4 linked regions of the Homo sapiens genome follow. The protein of the gene in region 1 purifies or fractionates together with the protein of each later gene. This does not show direct contact. Each region holds a gene or a part of one and is shown on either strand. Other genes may lie near its edges.

The links. The genes of interacting proteins can lie anywhere in the genome.
Region 2: the proteins of CD19 (region 1) and CR2 purify together in Homo sapiens (affinity purification with western blotting, with the first as the bait; 2 studies listed by BioGRID). This does not show direct contact.
Region 3: the proteins of CD19 (region 1) and B3GNT3 purify together in Homo sapiens (affinity purification with mass spectrometry; 3 studies listed by BioGRID and IntAct, with this or other methods). This does not show direct contact.
Region 4: the proteins of CD19 (region 1) and CD22 purify together in Homo sapiens (affinity purification with western blotting, with the first as the bait; one study listed by BioGRID). This does not show direct contact.

Annotation. Positions count from the first base shown.
Region 1 is NC_000016.10:28,930,702-28,934,770, reverse strand, and holds the start of CD19 (B-lymphocyte antigen CD19 isoform 2 precursor), read right to left. Parts: upstream 2,801-4,069; 5' UTR 2,771-2,800; coding exon 2,683-2,770; intron 2,426-2,682; coding exon 2,159-2,425; exon of another isoform or gene 1,861-2,158; coding exon 1,657-1,860; intron 1,538-1,656; coding exon 1,262-1,537; intron 1-1,261. UniProt on the Homo sapiens protein: Functions as a coreceptor for the B-cell antigen receptor complex (BCR) on B-lymphocytes. Decreases the threshold for activation of downstream signaling pathways and for triggering B-cell responses to antigens.
Region 2 is NC_000001.11:207,474,828-207,478,327, forward strand, and holds part of CR2 (complement receptor type 2 isoform 1 precursor), read left to right. Parts: coding exon 1-389; intron 390-1,406; coding exon 1,407-1,592; intron 1,593-3,057; coding exon 3,058-3,243; intron 3,244-3,500. UniProt on the Homo sapiens protein: Serves as a receptor for various ligands including complement component CD3d, HNRNPU OR IFNA1. When C3d is bound to antigens, attaches to C3d on B-cell surface and thereby facilitates the recognition and uptake of antigens by B-cells.
Region 3 is NC_000019.10:17,793,965-17,797,937, reverse strand, and holds the start of B3GNT3 (N-acetyllactosaminide beta-1,3-N-acetylglucosaminyltransferase 3), read right to left. Parts: upstream 2,801-3,973; 5' UTR 2,732-2,800; exon of another isoform or gene 23-2,731; intron 1-22. UniProt on the Homo sapiens protein: Beta-1,3-N-acetylglucosaminyltransferase involved in the synthesis of poly-N-acetyllactosamine. Has activity for type 2 oligosaccharides.
Region 4 is NC_000019.10:35,332,187-35,335,686, forward strand, and holds part of CD22 (B-cell receptor CD22 isoform 1 precursor), read left to right. Parts: intron 1-360; coding exon 361-738; intron 739-3,500. UniProt on the Homo sapiens protein: Most highly expressed siglec (sialic acid-binding immunoglobulin-like lectin) on B-cells that plays a role in various aspects of B-cell biology including differentiation, antigen presentation, and trafficking to bone marrow.

The DNA.
Region 1 (4,069 bases):
TTGGATCAAGTTTGGAGTGAAAGTTGGGGTTGGGTTTGTGAATTGCAGTTAGGATAGCATGATAGGATTGCATGGAGAGAGAATTGGCAGAACACTGTGACCAGTTTGTTGGACGGGGTGAGGAAAAAGAAGGATGCCCAGGTTCTTAGCCTGGGCGAGGGAGCAGGTGGTGGTGCCCTCTGCTTACACTGGGCCACCAAGAAGACTATACTTGGGGAAGACATTGAGTTTGATTTTGTATCTGTTGAGCCTGAGGTGTCCATGGGATATCAAATGGCACAGGAGATGGCTGAGTATGGAGCCTGGAATAGAGTCACCAAGGCATGGTGACCCAAGAAGCCATTGAGAGTCAAGTTCAAATAGGAAAGTGTGCAGACAGGGATAAGAAGAGGGCCCAGGGCTCCAAGAGTGAGGAGTTGGGGAGGAAGGAAGACTCCACCCAAGCTGGTGGGCAGGCGCAAGCAATGGTAGGTGAAGACCCAGAAAAGTAGTGTCTTGGAAGCGAGGGAAGAAAGACTTGAAGTCTAGGCCAGGTGCGGTGGCTTATGCCTGTAATCCCAGTACTTTGGGAGGCCAAGGCAGGCAGATCACCTGAAGTCAGGAGTTCAAGACCAGCCTGGTCCAACAGGGAGAAACCCCATCTCTACTAAAAATACAAAATTAGGCTTGGCCCGGCCCTGTGGCTCATGTCTGTAATCCCAGCACTTTGGGAGGCCGAGGCGGGTGGATCACGAGGTCAGGAGTTTGAGACCAGCCTGGCCAACATAATGAAACCCCATCTCTACTAAAAATACAAAAAAAATTAGCCAGGCTTTAATCCCAGCTACTCGGGAGGCTGAGGCAGGAGAATCACTTGAACCTGGAAGGTGGAGGTTGCAGTGAGCTGAGATCGTGCCACTGCACTCCAGCCTGGGTGACAGTGCAAGACTCCGTCTCAAAAAAAAAAAAAAAATTAGCCAGGCGTGGTGGTGGGCACCTGTAATCCCAGCTACTCAGGAGGCTGAGGCAGGGGAATCACTTGAACCTGGGAGGCGGAGGTTGCAGTGAGCCAAGACAAGATGGCACCACTGCACTCCAGCCTAGGCAACAGAGCGAGACTCTGTCAAAAAAAAGAAAGACTTGGAGTCAGTGTTCTGTGTGGAAGTTGGGGTTTGGGGTGAGGCTGGGAGTAGCCCTCGGGTTGGGGGAATCTAAGATTGACTGGCTTCCACTTCTTCCCAGTACCCCCACACAGATGCCTCCCAGTTGAGAGAAACTCTACCTGGCCGAGCAGTGATCTCCAGGTGGAATGACATGGTCAGGTTGCCACGGTGACAATAATACTTTCCAGCGTCTTGAGCTGTGGCCCGGGGCAACAACAGACCCGTCTCCATTACCCACATATCTCTGGCCGGGCGATCGTCCTTCAGCTCTAGGCTCAGCAATGACTTAGGCCCCTTGGGGTGCACATGGGTCCAGGAGAGGGGGCCCCTGGACACAGAGTCAGGGGGTACCCCACAGGACAGCCAGAGTGTGGAGCCAGGGGCCATGGTGAGGTCTGGGACAGGGAGAGATAAGACAAGGAAAGCCTGATCCTCAGGGTTTCACCTCTTCAGTTTCCCCTCCCCTCTGTCTCTGGACCCCCGCTTCCCGGCATCTCCCCAGTCATCACCATACCCTGGCTGAGGCTCTGGTTCAGGCTGTCCCTCGGTGGGAGACACGGAGGCTCTCCCTCCCAGATCTCAGGGCGGTCTTTGGCCCACACATACAGCTTGGGGCTCATGAGCTTCCCGGAAGGGGAGCTGGGGCCCTCTGAGGACCTGTTCTTCAGGCCACAGCCCAGGCCACCTAGGTCCGAAACATTCCACCGGAACAGCTCCCCTGGGAAGAGACCCAGAACCAAATGCAGAGACACCCAGGAGAGGGAGAGAGATAGAGACTCAAAGACAGAGATAAATAGAGACAAAGACCCGCAGAGAGAGAGAAGACAGTGAGAGGTAGAGGGACAGGAAGCAGCTCATACTGAAGCCACGAAGCCCCAGGAGTCTGCCCACCTAGCTCCGAGTTTCGCCCTCAATCCCTCCAGCCCCTCTCTCCAGCTCCATTGTGGCCGCGGACCTCTTCTGTCCATGGTGGCCTCCCTTCTCTCCTCCTGCCCCTGCCCCAGCCCGGCCCTCACCGCTGCCCTCCACATTGACTGTCCAGCCAGGCTGCCAGGCCTTCTCAGAGGGGGGCCCCGGCTGGCACAGGTAGAAGCCCCCCATCTGTTGAGAGACGTTGAAGATGAAAAGCCAGATGGCCAGGGGCCTCATGTGGATTCCCAGGCCTGGCAGCCCCAGGCTGAGTTTTAAGAAGGGTTTAAGCGGGGACTCCCGAGACCAGGTCAGCTGCTGAGTGGGGCCATCTGAGGTCCCCTTGAGGCACTGCAGCACAGCGTTATCTCCCTCTGTGGAGAGAGAGGGAGAGAGGTGTGGGCATGGGTGGGGGGGACCTCCAAGCCCCCCGACTCCTCACACCAGGTTATAGAGCAGAGGACTCCAAAAGCTGGGAGTGGAGGAGCCGGCAGAGTCCTTCCAACCCTTTCCTGAATTTTACAAATAAGAAAATGGAGGCTCAGAGAGGGTAAGTTACTCAGCCAAGGACACCCAGCCACAACTCAAGTTTCCAGCCTCAATCCCTTCCCTTTCTGCCCTTTGGACATACCTTCCACCTTCACCACTAGAGGTTCCTCGGGCCTGACTTCCATGGGGGTGAGGAAGAGGAGGAAGAAGAGGAGGCGAGGAGGTGGCATGGTGGTCAGACTCTCCGGGGCACCCAGCTTCGCGCAGGGGATGCTGGGGCAGGCAGGGGCCTGGAGGGCACTCAACCATGGGTGTCTGCGGGGGCGGCAGGCAGTCCCCCCAGAGAGGAAGGCGGTGGTCACGCCTCAGGCCCCATTCTCCAGGAACCCTCCAGACTCACAACACTTGCCTCCTCCCTGCCACGCTGTTTTATTTTCATCCCAGCTCTCACTACCACGGGAAATGATCTTGTGTGTTTATTTGTTCATTTCTGTTTTCTGCACAAGAATGTGAGCCCCTTGGAGTAGAGACCGTGTTGTTCACCACTAATTGCAAGTGCTCTAGAACAATGCTGGGCACATAGACTCCTTCTCAAAAAAAAAAAAAAAAATTAGCCGGGCATGGTGGCGCACACCTGTAATCCCAGCTACTTAGGAGGCTGAGGCAGGAGAATCACTGGAAACCAGGAGGCGGAGGTTGCAGTGAGCCGAGATCACACCACTGCACTCCAGCCTGGGCACCAGAGTGAGACTCTGTTTCAAAAAAAAAAAAGAAAAGAAAACAGTCCTATACAAATATTGTTTGTGAAGATTAAAAATGACAATATGTTCAGCACTATTAGCCCAGTGTCCAGCACATCATAAGCCCTCAGTTAATGAGATACAGCTTCAATTAATGCCTAAGAGCTCAAGTCATACTGCCTCAGTTTAAAACCAGGCAAAAGCCAGGCACAGTGGTACACGCCTATGGTCCCAGGTCCTTGGGAGGCTGAGGTAGAAGGATCGCTTGAGCCCAGGAGTTCAAGGCTGCAGTGCACCATGATTATGCCTGGGAATAGCCACTGTGCTCCAGTCCGGGCAACACAACAAGACCCTGTCTCTAAAAGAAAAATTGTTTTAAAAGAACCCAGGAGTTCTAACTCCTAAATCTGTTCTTATTCTGCCCCATGCCTCTCCTCTCTGTCTCTCTCTTTCTCTGTCACTCTCTATGTGCCTCTGTGTCTTTTTCACTGCTGCAGGGACTCAGAAAAAGAATTCAGGGACCCAAGAGACCCACTTTCTCAGTGGCTGATTCCCAGGCCCATCTCACCAGGCTGTGACTTCCTGTTTGCTGTGGGCAAGCCCCAGGGGACCCTCCCTACAGGTGGCAGGGCCTCCACTTCCCTTTGGCCAGTTGAGGCGGCTGGGAGGCGGAAGAATGAGGCATGAATGAAGGGGAATGAAGGGGGCGAGTAGCAGGACTCAATCTGCCTTTCATTCAACAAAATCTCTCTAATCCCCTCATTAGCTACCCAGCTGCCCAGACTGGCT
Region 2 (3,500 bases), on another chromosome or scaffold:
TCACTGTCACCCTCCACCAGTGATTGTCAATGGGAAGCACACAGGCATGATGGCAGAAAACTTTCTATATGGAAATGAAGTCTCTTATGAATGTGACCAAGGATTCTATCTCCTGGGAGAGAAAAAATTGCAGTGCAGAAGTGATTCTAAAGGACATGGATCTTGGAGCGGGCCTTCCCCACAGTGCTTACGATCTCCTCCTGTGACTCGCTGCCCTAATCCAGAAGTCAAACATGGGTACAAGCTCAATAAAACACATTCTGCATATTCCCACAATGACATAGTGTATGTTGACTGCAATCCTGGCTTCATCATGAATGGTAGTCGCGTGATTAGGTGTCATACTGATAACACATGGGTGCCAGGTGTGCCAACTTGTATCAAAAAAGGTAAGATACTTGGAAGGGATAAGTTATGGGATGTTGTACAGAATAAAGAAAAGAGGTTTTGAATCTGCACTTGACATTCTGCCTAAAGAAAAGCATCTAAGAGCTAAGGCAGTTATATTGTTTTACAAGATATTTGCCTTTTCCTATCTTCTCACTTGATTGTTTGTTTTCTCTTTCCTTTCTCAGTATATTGAGCAATAAATAGTACATGAAAGGATAATGGCTAACTTCCAAATTGATAGCATCTCCAAAAATTGTTATTGTTATGACTTTAGTGTAAGAAAAATGCACATACATTTTTGGCAAATGTTTGGCAGTAATATTGCTAATTATTTGATATTTAAGGCTATGTTGCCAGCCAGAAAGAGAACTTTGGGTGTTCTGGAGAATTAATTGGCCCTCCAACCCATTGAATTGTCTTTCTTGTAATTGTAGTTATCATTTGGCAGCCTTATTCCTGTCCATGACTATCTACAGCAGAGGCTGTTTGGCAACGGTTGTCTTTGACCAGCACAGTAATCTTAAGTGAAACCCATCTTCAGTTTAAGATAAATAGTGAGCTTGCGAGCCACAAGACCCCCTTTGCTTCCCAGCAAGGCACCAGTAACTTGAGCTGAGCAGTGGCTGCCACTTTTAGAAGGACAGGGGCTCTCTGACTTGTCGTATCTGGTGGCTTCACTTCCTAGCTCTCGTAGACATTTGAAGGTGTAACCATGTCTGCTATTTAAAGGGAAAGGAAAAGAAAACTGTTGGCTGATGGATTACCATTGTGAACTGTATCCATTAATGTTTCATTATCTTATTTTTTAACACTTTTCTTCAAATCATATTGGCTATCAGTAGGAAATGCAGATCTCCATCCAGTGTTGCTGGTCTGGGTGGAATGAATGAATGTTTTTGGATACCAGTTAGTTGGCTTGTTGCTTCTGGCCTTCCTGTATCGCTATCACCCAGAGATAGTGCAGGCTATGTGTTCCTCTGTGCTGAGTTAAAGACCCTTTCTTATTGGTGTCTAAGCCTTCATAGGGTGTCCACCTCCGCCTAAGACCCCTAACGGGAACCATACTGGTGGAAACATAGCTCGATTTTCTCCTGGAATGTCAATCCTGTACAGCTGTGACCAAGGCTACCTGCTGGTGGGAGAGGCACTCCTTCTTTGCACACATGAGGGAACCTGGAGCCAACCTGCCCCTCATTGTAAAGGTGCTTTGTCTATTTTTTATTCTTATTTTTATATCAAATTTGTGCCAAATAGATATATTCAGTTGGGTACTTTCAACTTAAAATAGCCAAAGAAATGAATTAACTGTCTGATTACATTAAAGGCTTTAATTAGATTAATACAATCATTAAATATCTCAAAATAAGAAAAAATGTCTCAGGCTGTAGTCTATCTGGTGAATGACCACTTATGTAGTCATTTACACATAGAAAGTTGGAGTTATGTCTGTAAATTAAACAACCAAAGCACAGATTGTATTTACACACTGTAGTTACAGTTATGTTAAGTGTGTATTTGATAAAGTACCAATAAAAAGCACAGCAATCTTTTGAGAATATTTACTGAGTGTTGGTGGGATTATGGGTACATTTTTAATAAAAGTTTCAGAAAGTCATTTTCATTGTCATAAACAGTGCATATGAAATATGACTAGTAAATTAGTGTCTAGTATTCATTGAACACTTTTTACTCTATGCCAGACACTGTGCACAGCACCTGACATGCATTATTTCATTTAGTCTTCATGAGAGCCACATGAGGTTGGTGCCATGATTATCCCTGTTTTATAGATGAGGTTTCAGTAGCATGGAGAGATTTGGAACTTACCCAAAGTCACACATCTAGGAAGTACTAGAGCCAGGCTTCAAATCCAAGATCTCACTGTGTTAATCCATTCTCACACTGCTAATAAAGACATATCTGAAACTGGGTAATTTATAAAGGAAAGAGATTTAATGGACTCACAGTTTCACATGGCTGGGGAAGCCTCACAATCATGGCAGAAGGTGAAGGAGGAGCAAAGGCACATCTTACATGATGGCAGGCAAGAGAGCGTGTGCAGGAGAACTGTCCTTTATAAACCATCAGATCTCATGAGACTTATTTACTATCACAAAAACAACACAGGAAACCCCACCCCCATGATCCAATGACCTCTCACCAGGTCCCTCCCATGGCGCATGGGGATTATGGGAGCTACAATTCAACATGAGATTTGAGTGGGGACACAGCCAAACCATATCACTCACACTATTGATGACTACACTGAAAAGAAGAAAGAAATGAGAAAGCACGCACATGTATGAAGAATTAGAGAGTAAAACTAGAAGCAGAAAATAACAGTAATTCAGAATACTTCATAATATTACCAATTCGGCCCTCACCATTTCTCCAAGAAGCCATTAAAATTATCCATCACTGTTTGGATAGAAACTGAAGCAAAAAACACAAATATAATCTGGCTTAAATTACCCAGAGGTTATTGAGATAGAGGGCTGACAGTAAAAGATTGTGTCTAGGATATAGTCTTATCCTATTTCAGTGCAGCTTTCCTTACTGAGAGTGAAACAGGTTGGTTTTATAAATCTTTCTATTAAGGGAAATTTCTGCTTTCTTGGTAAAAGGCCAAAATATGACTGTGCTTGAATTAGATTTCTTTAATTTCAGAGGTAAACTGTAGCTCACCAGCAGATATGGATGGAATCCAGAAAGGGCTGGAACCAAGGAAAATGTATCAGTATGGAGCTGTTGTAACTCTGGAGTGTGAAGATGGGTATATGCTGGAAGGCAGTCCCCAGAGCCAGTGCCAATCGGATCACCAATGGAACCCTCCCCTGGCGGTTTGCAGATCCCGTAAGTACCAAGGGCTTCACCGCCGCTTGTAACTGGCTAACGGAGAGAAGAGAGTGAGAGTTTCCCTCAGCGTGGAGAGTCCTGGGTTTTAAATTGACATAGGTTTGTGACCAGTTGTATAATTACAGAGGAACTTGAAGTCAGTGGTCTATTCTAGAAAAAGCACAGCTTGGCCAGGTCCGTGACTTCTGCCTGTGATACCAGAATTTTGAGAGGCTGAGGCAGGAGGATTGCTTGAGCCTAGGAGTTTAAAACCA
Region 3 (3,973 bases), on another chromosome or scaffold:
GTGGTTCCTCACCAGTTCTTACCAGTTTGGGTTTCCCAGTAATGATAGGCTGGTCCCTTTTTACAAGGAGCAGGAGTTGCTTTTGCAAACAGAAGGGGAAGAAAAGAAGAAGAAATAGCCCAGTAAATCCTTTAAGTTCACAATGGCCGGACCCTGCTTTAGTGAAACCATGTGTACTAGTGAGTTCTCTGTCAATATATACTCAATATCTGCACCAGGGAGTGCCTGGGTATGGAAAAAGGGGTGGGGTTGGGCACGGTGACACATGCACTTTAGACTTTGGTGTCCCGGGTTTCTAGGTCCCGAGGCTCTGTCATGGATGACTAATTGTATGTCATCCATGCCAGCCCTACCCCATTGCAGGAACTGCCTGGGGCACCTATGTGAGACTGGAAAGGGGCCCCTGAATAACACCAGCCCTGGCCCAGTGGAGTCTCAAAGGGCATCTTTGGGCTCACTCCATAGATGGGGAAACAGGCTGGGAAGCCAGGCCGTGCATCGCAGTTCAACCTCAGACCCTTCCCACAATCCAGGAGTGATGGGGGAACTGAGGTCTCCTGGGCCCCTCCTCTGGGGACTTCCTGGACCCCCACACCTTCAGGCTGGTCAGAGCTCTTCTCCAAGTCTTGTACTTAGAGCTCAGAAATATTCATGATATTATTTCTGTGTGCAAAGATACATGCTATAAATGATAACATAATGAGCTGCATAATTAGGACTAGGATCAATATGCCAGGTCCTGTGTGCAGCCTGGCCACCATCTGTCCATCTAAACTCTATATGTGTGCTGAGAAGTAGGGCTGCATTAGCTCCATTTTTATGGATAGGAAAATTGAGGCACAGAGAGGCCTAGAAATCCACCTAAGAAAGGTTGGGTGGGAGCCTAGTTCCTGTCTTTAACTCCCAGCTGATGAGATTTCCTTTAGTTTGCCACGTTGGTAGTGACCTCACCATCATGAGGAGCAATCAAGGCAAGCCAGATTCCCACCAGGAAGAGGGTCCACAATAGGCATCCTCCCTGGCTCATGGGGTTGGGGGAGTGAGCAAATTCCTGCTTGCTCTGGGCCTCAGAGGCTGGTGGCAGGAGGAAATGTCACTCAGTGAGCCCTTACTTGCTCCTCCTGGGCTGACCTGGCTTGTCTGGATTCCTGAACTCTGGCCTGGAACAGAGAAGCACCAAGGCCCCCTTTTGGTTCTCCCACACCCAGAGCACCTGCCAGGAAATGCCACACCCTAGGGGTGAGAGTGAGGGAGGGTGTCCAGGCTGGACTGAGCAAACACCCAACTGCTCACCTAGGCCATATGGGGGCCCAGCTGCCTGACCTGGGGGCCACACCTCTTCCTCCTGACACCAGCCCTGCCTGGTGTCACCTTGAGAACAGGCCAGTGGGAGGAAGTGATGGCCCCCAGGGCTGGCCCCAGACCTAGACGGCCAGGTGGCTTCCCATGGGCCCTGAATCCCAGATCTGGACTGCAGGAGTCCCCCGCCCAAGTTGAGGGGCGACCTCAGTTTCCTCTTGAGAAGTGTCCATTTAAAAAAATCAGAGCTGGGCATAGTGGCTCATGCCTGAAATCCCAGCACTTTCAGATGCCAAGGCAGGAGGATTGCTTGGGCCCAGGAGTTTGAGACCAGCCTGGACAACATAGTGAGACCCCGTCTCCACACACAAAAAAATTTTAAAATTAGCTGCCTGTGGTGTGCACCTGTAGTCCCAGCTACTCGGGAGGCTGAGGTGGGAGGATCACTTGAGCCCAGGAGGTTGAGGCTGCAGTGAATACAGTGCATGGAGCCACTGTACTCCAGCCTGGGTGACAAAGTGAGTCCCCCACCTCTACAAATAAAACAAACAAACAAAAAGTTTAAATCTGACCCAGAGGAAAAGATGGTCGGGATTCTTGGAACAGGAGTGAATCTGAACAGTGGCTACAGACATAATTAATATAATTATGATGACAGCTGACTGTCCCTGGGCACCCACTGAGTGGCCACAGCTCCTATCCACTCAACTCATCCTCGCCAAGGTCCCATGCCATGAGACCCCCCCTTAACACACAGGGAAACTGAGGCTCAGAGACCTAACGCCAGTCACGCAAGGGCCCCCAGTGGCCAGCAGTACACCTCATCACAAAAATTTCCTTTGACTAAACGCTTCGGGCATCCTCATCCCAGCTGGTTCATTGTTCCACCTCACGGAGGGGAAACTGAGGCCGGTTCAGCAATGTGTCCATGCCACGCAGCCAGGGCCCCTGGAATGCCGCCCAGCCACCTGGCAGGGCCTGCAGCACCGGAACCGCAGGGAGAGACTGGGGGTCACCTGCAGTTCCCAAACCCAACCGGGGACCCCAGCGCTGGCTTGCCCAGATACTCCCAACCAAGGGGCCAATAATCTCAACAACACAGGTAACAGTAACAGCCAAGTCTGACTAAGCGGCATCCGCCTCGGGGGTCTGATCCCGCCCAATCTGGGAGGGGCGCCGGGGTCCCGGGTCGCCAGCTGTGGGGGAGGCTTCCTCCCCGACCCAGGTCCGAGCTGGCCTTGGGAACGCCGGAGACAATTACGGATGGGTGAGGGCAACCGGGTTCTCGAGACTCGGGGCTCCCGAATGTTCCCACATCTGCAGGGTATGCGCGGTGGAGACCGGCAGGGGCTTCTCCAGAGCCACAACTTCCCCACCCCCAAACCCCCACCACTGGGGTCCGCCAGATCCTCCGGGGGCTGCCGACACTCACCCCCAGACGACAGTCCCGCCTCTGCCCCTCTACCTGCTCCTCTCAGCTCGCGAGCCGAAGAAAGAGTTTTTACCTGAGCCAGAGCTCCCGCCCCTCTCCCGCTTCCTCCCTCCCACCGGGCCTCACGCCTTCCTGCCTCCCTCCGCCTTGGCCGCTTGCCAGTCCCCCTCTTCCCAGCTCGGCTGAGTTTCCTGGTGGCCCAGGCGAAGTTCTCTGCCGGCTCCTCCCTCCCCGGCCATGCCTCTTCCCCTCTCCGGTCCCGGCTGCCACCTCTGCCATCCCGCTCTTGCCACCCTCGCCCCTCTCGGGGCTCACGACCCCACCTTGGGTCTGGCCCGCTGCTAGGGAATGAGCTCCCCGTGGCTGGAGATGAACAAGCAGCGCCTTGCGGGTTCCTGGCACAGAGCCCGGTCAGCGTTGGCCCACGTGTGTTCCGTGAAGAAATGATTGGATAAGCCCATGGCGATAAGGAGGGAGGGAGGCAGGTTAAACCTTGCGGCACCTCTGCTCTCTGCGGGGAGTTCAAAGATTCCTGAAGCTGGGGTCGGCGCAGTGGCTCACTCCTGTACTTCCAGAGGCCGAGGGGGGCGGATCGCTGGAACCCAGGAGTTTGAGACCAGCCTGGGCAACATAGTGAGATTCCATCTCTATATTGAAAATAATTCCAGGACCCGAAAACCTACGATGTGCCCCCAGACATCCAGATGCCACCTGCTGGCATTTGGAAGGGTTCTGGAAGTCAACAATCAGACAGATTTGTAGTCTTTTCTTTTTCTTTTTTTCTTGTTTTGAGAGACAGGATCTCGCTTTGTCACCCAGGCTAGAGTACAGTGGTGTGATCTCCGCTCGCTACAATGTCGACCTCCCCAGTTCAAGCAATCCTCCCACCTCAGCCTCCCGAGTAGCTGGGACTACAGGCACCCGCCAGCATGCCTGGCTAATTTTTGTCATTTTTCTAGATATGGGGTTTTGATATGTTGCCCAGGCTGGTCTTAACTGTGGGCCTCAAGTGACCTTCCTGCCTCAGATCCCCAAGGTGCTGGATTATAGATGTGAGCCACTGCACCTGGCCTCAGATTTGTAGATTTTTAGGGTTGGGTTGGCTAGGATTCGAACCCTGCCCTGTGCTGCCTCTGAATCTCTAGGAGATTCTAGCCTGGACCCAGCGTTGGGAGCTCTGGGGTTGGGGAAGTCCAGGTGTGTGAGCTGGGCTATGGTTTCAGGAAACCCCTCCTTCCTCCT
Region 4 (3,500 bases), on another chromosome or scaffold:
GTGTGTATAGATAAATGTACATACAAATATATATGTTTCCCATATATACATACACTTCTCTCATTGCATCCTGCTGTCTTTGTGTATCTCTGTATTTCTCCCACTATCTTCAGAGGGAATTCTTTAGTCTTTAGAAAGCTCTCTGCTGGGTGCAGTGGCTCATGCCTGAAATCTCAGCACTTTGTGAGGCTGAGGTGGGAGGATCACTTGAGGTCAGGAGTTCAAGGCCAGCTTGGACAACATAGCAAGACCCCTATCTCTAAAAAGAATAAAAAATTAAACAAATTTTAAAATAAAAAATAACTTTTAAAAGAAGGCTCTCATGCCCCCTTAGTAATGCTTTCTGATCACTGTGGTGAGTTCTAGAATACTTGGCTTTCTCTGACTCAAGTAAATGGGTTTTTGAGCACCCTGAAACCCTCTACGCCTGGGAGGGGGCCTGCGTCTGGATCCCCTGCACCTACAGAGCCCTAGATGGTGACCTGGAAAGCTTCATCCTGTTCCACAATCCTGAGTATAACAAGAACACCTCGAAGTTTGATGGGACAAGACTCTATGAAAGCACAAAGGATGGGAAGGTTCCTTCTGAGCAGAAAAGGGTGCAATTCCTGGGAGACAAGAATAAGAACTGCACACTGAGTATCCACCCGGTGCACCTCAATGACAGTGGTCAGCTGGGGCTGAGGATGGAGTCCAAGACTGAGAAATGGATGGAACGAATACACCTCAATGTCTCTGGTAAGGCCTTCGGGGAGCGGGTCCTCTGCTCTGGGCAGGGGTGAGTGGGAGGCAGGAAATACCTGACTCCTGGCACAGAGCTCACAAACCGAGCTTCCTGCAGAGCTCAGGCAGGGGACGCCAGCGGATGACGATGGCGATGCAGCAGCACTAGACAGAGCTGCGGGACCTCGGATGTCCCATCTGACCCTCAGTTCCTGCCCCTCTGGGACCTGGATTCCAAAGTTATCGGATCTCCTGATCTTTCCCTCTTTCTTTCTCACCATGTATTTTTCAGCTTTTGTGACAAACTCGTGTTTGGCCTTAGTACTGGAACCATCCAAGCACCGCATTCCTTTAGTGGGGTGGGTCTGCATGTAACCAGCCTCAGCTCTCCCCCAGGCTGGACCGCCCCCTTCAGACATTGGGGTCTGAAGCTGCATCGCTCACCCCAAACTTAGGGCTGCTCAGAGCTCCCTATAGAGGAAACTGGGTGTGGAACGGAGTAACCACACTCCCTAGGGCAGAGGCCCCAGACCTGTGTTTGATGGGTCAAATCCACCCCTACATGTGCAGTGCCATAACTGAGCCTGTGTTATAAAAATCATAAAATGTTTGTTTTACTTTTTTTCCTCTTCTTTTCCCCTTCCCCTTCCTTTCCCTTTTTATGAGACAGGGTCTCGCACTGTCATCACCCAGGCTGGAGTGCAGTGGCGCGATCTCAGCTCACTGCAGCCTTGATCTCCCGGGTTCAAGCAATCCTCCCACCTCCAAAGTAGCTAGGATCACAGGTGCATGCCACCATGCCCAGCTAACTTTTTAATTTGTTGTAGAAATGGGTCTTGCTATGTTGCCAGGCTGGTCTTGAACTCCTGGCCTCAAGCAATCCTCCTGCTTCAACCTCTCAAAGCATTAGGATTACAGGCATGAGTCACCGCACCCGGCCTGATCTTCTGATTTTTCAAGAGACGATGGAAATCTAGATTTTCCAGTGAAATCTCCCAGCATGTTAATGTTCATGGCAAGTTCTCATGAGCTCTTCAAGGTCAGATGACACTGTTGTTGAACCCCAAAGGCCAGGTTTGAGCTCCCGATGCGTAGTCAGCCAAACACTGACACCTCAGTGCTTAGAAGCTGAGATAGGATTATTTAATTTAGCCAAAGCAAGGGGACAGAAGAGAGAAACTCTCAAATCTGACCTGACTTTGAGCGTTAGTGGGGGCTTTTATGAGTAAAGTAGGTGTGCAGGAGGTGACCTCCCGATCGTCAAAGCTGTTGTGCCCCTCGGCTCATCAAATTTCTGGATGTCATCAAGGAGGTCTGTGTGACCTAAGGATCATTGTTCTTTGAAAGAGAGACAAGTTCATTTATCTTGCAGGCAGCTGCCAGGGAGTCAGGATGTAAGTTAAACAATTATGAGTGAATTAATGGTTACCTGCTACTGAAATGACCAAATGTAACTAATCATGCATGGAGGAAGGAAAGGACAAAGAGAAAAGAAAAGAAGTAAAACGAACATCTTATAATTTTTATAACATAGGTTCAGTTATAGCACTGCACATGTAGGGGTGGCTTTGACCCATCAAACACAGGTGTGGGGGGCCCCTGCCACAGGGAGTGTGGTCACTCCGTTCCACACCGTTTCCCGGATGGGCAGTTCTGAGCAGCCTTAAATTTGGGGTGAGCAATGCAACTTCAGACCCCGCTGTCTGAAGGAGGTGGTCCAGCCTTGGGGAGAGCTGAGGCTGGGTGCACACAGACCCACTCCACTAAAGGAATGCGGTGCGTGGATGGCTGCAATACTGAAGGAAGCCATGAAAGTAACACAAGTTTGTCAAAGCTGAAAAGTCCGTGAACTAAACTGATAAAATTCACTTAGAGGTGGTGGGAATAGGCCGGGCACGGTGGCTCACGCCTGTAATCCCAGAACTTTGGGAGGCCGAGGCAGGCGGATCACAAGGTCAGGAGATCGAGACCATCCTGACTAACACAGTGAAACCCTGTCTCTACTAAAAATGCAAAAAGTTAGCCAGGCGTGGTGGCAGGCGCCTGTAGTCCCAGCTACTCAGGAGGCTGAGGCAGGAGAATGGCGTGAACCCGGAAGGTGGAGCTTGCAGTGAGCTGAGATCACGCCACTACACTCCAGTCCGGGCGACAGAGCGAGACTCTGTCTCAAAAAAAAAAAAAAAAAAAAAAGAGGTGGTGAGGTGGTGGGAATAGAACTTTGCAATCATTCAGAAAGCAGACATCCGGCAATGAGCATGAAAGAAAAGTAGATCACAGTTCCCAAGGAGGCTTAGTGTGGTCAAGGCCTTTCAGAGGGGATTTCGGGTGAGCAAAAGTGATTCAAAGTGGAGAAAAGCAGGACTGCGTTGGGTGCAGTGGTTCCCGCCTGTAACCCCAGCACTTTGGGAGGCTGAGATCGGAGGATCGTTTGAGCCCAGGAGTTTGAGACCAGCCTGGGTAACATGGCAAGACCCTGTCTCTACAAAATGTTTAAAAAACTAGCTAGGTGTGGTGGCACATGCCTGTAGTCCCAGTTACTCAGGGGGCTGAGGTGAGAGGATTGCTTGAGCCTAGGAGGTTGAGGCTACAGTGAGCTAGGATTGCGCCACTGCACTCCAGCCTGGGTGACAAAGCAAGACCCTGTCTCTAAAGAAAAAAAGAGGCCGGGTGTGGTGGCTTACACCTGTAATCCCAGCACTTTGGGAGGCCAAGGCGGGAGGATCACTTGAGGTCAGGAGTTCAAGACCAGCCTGGCCAACATGGCGAAACCCTGTCTC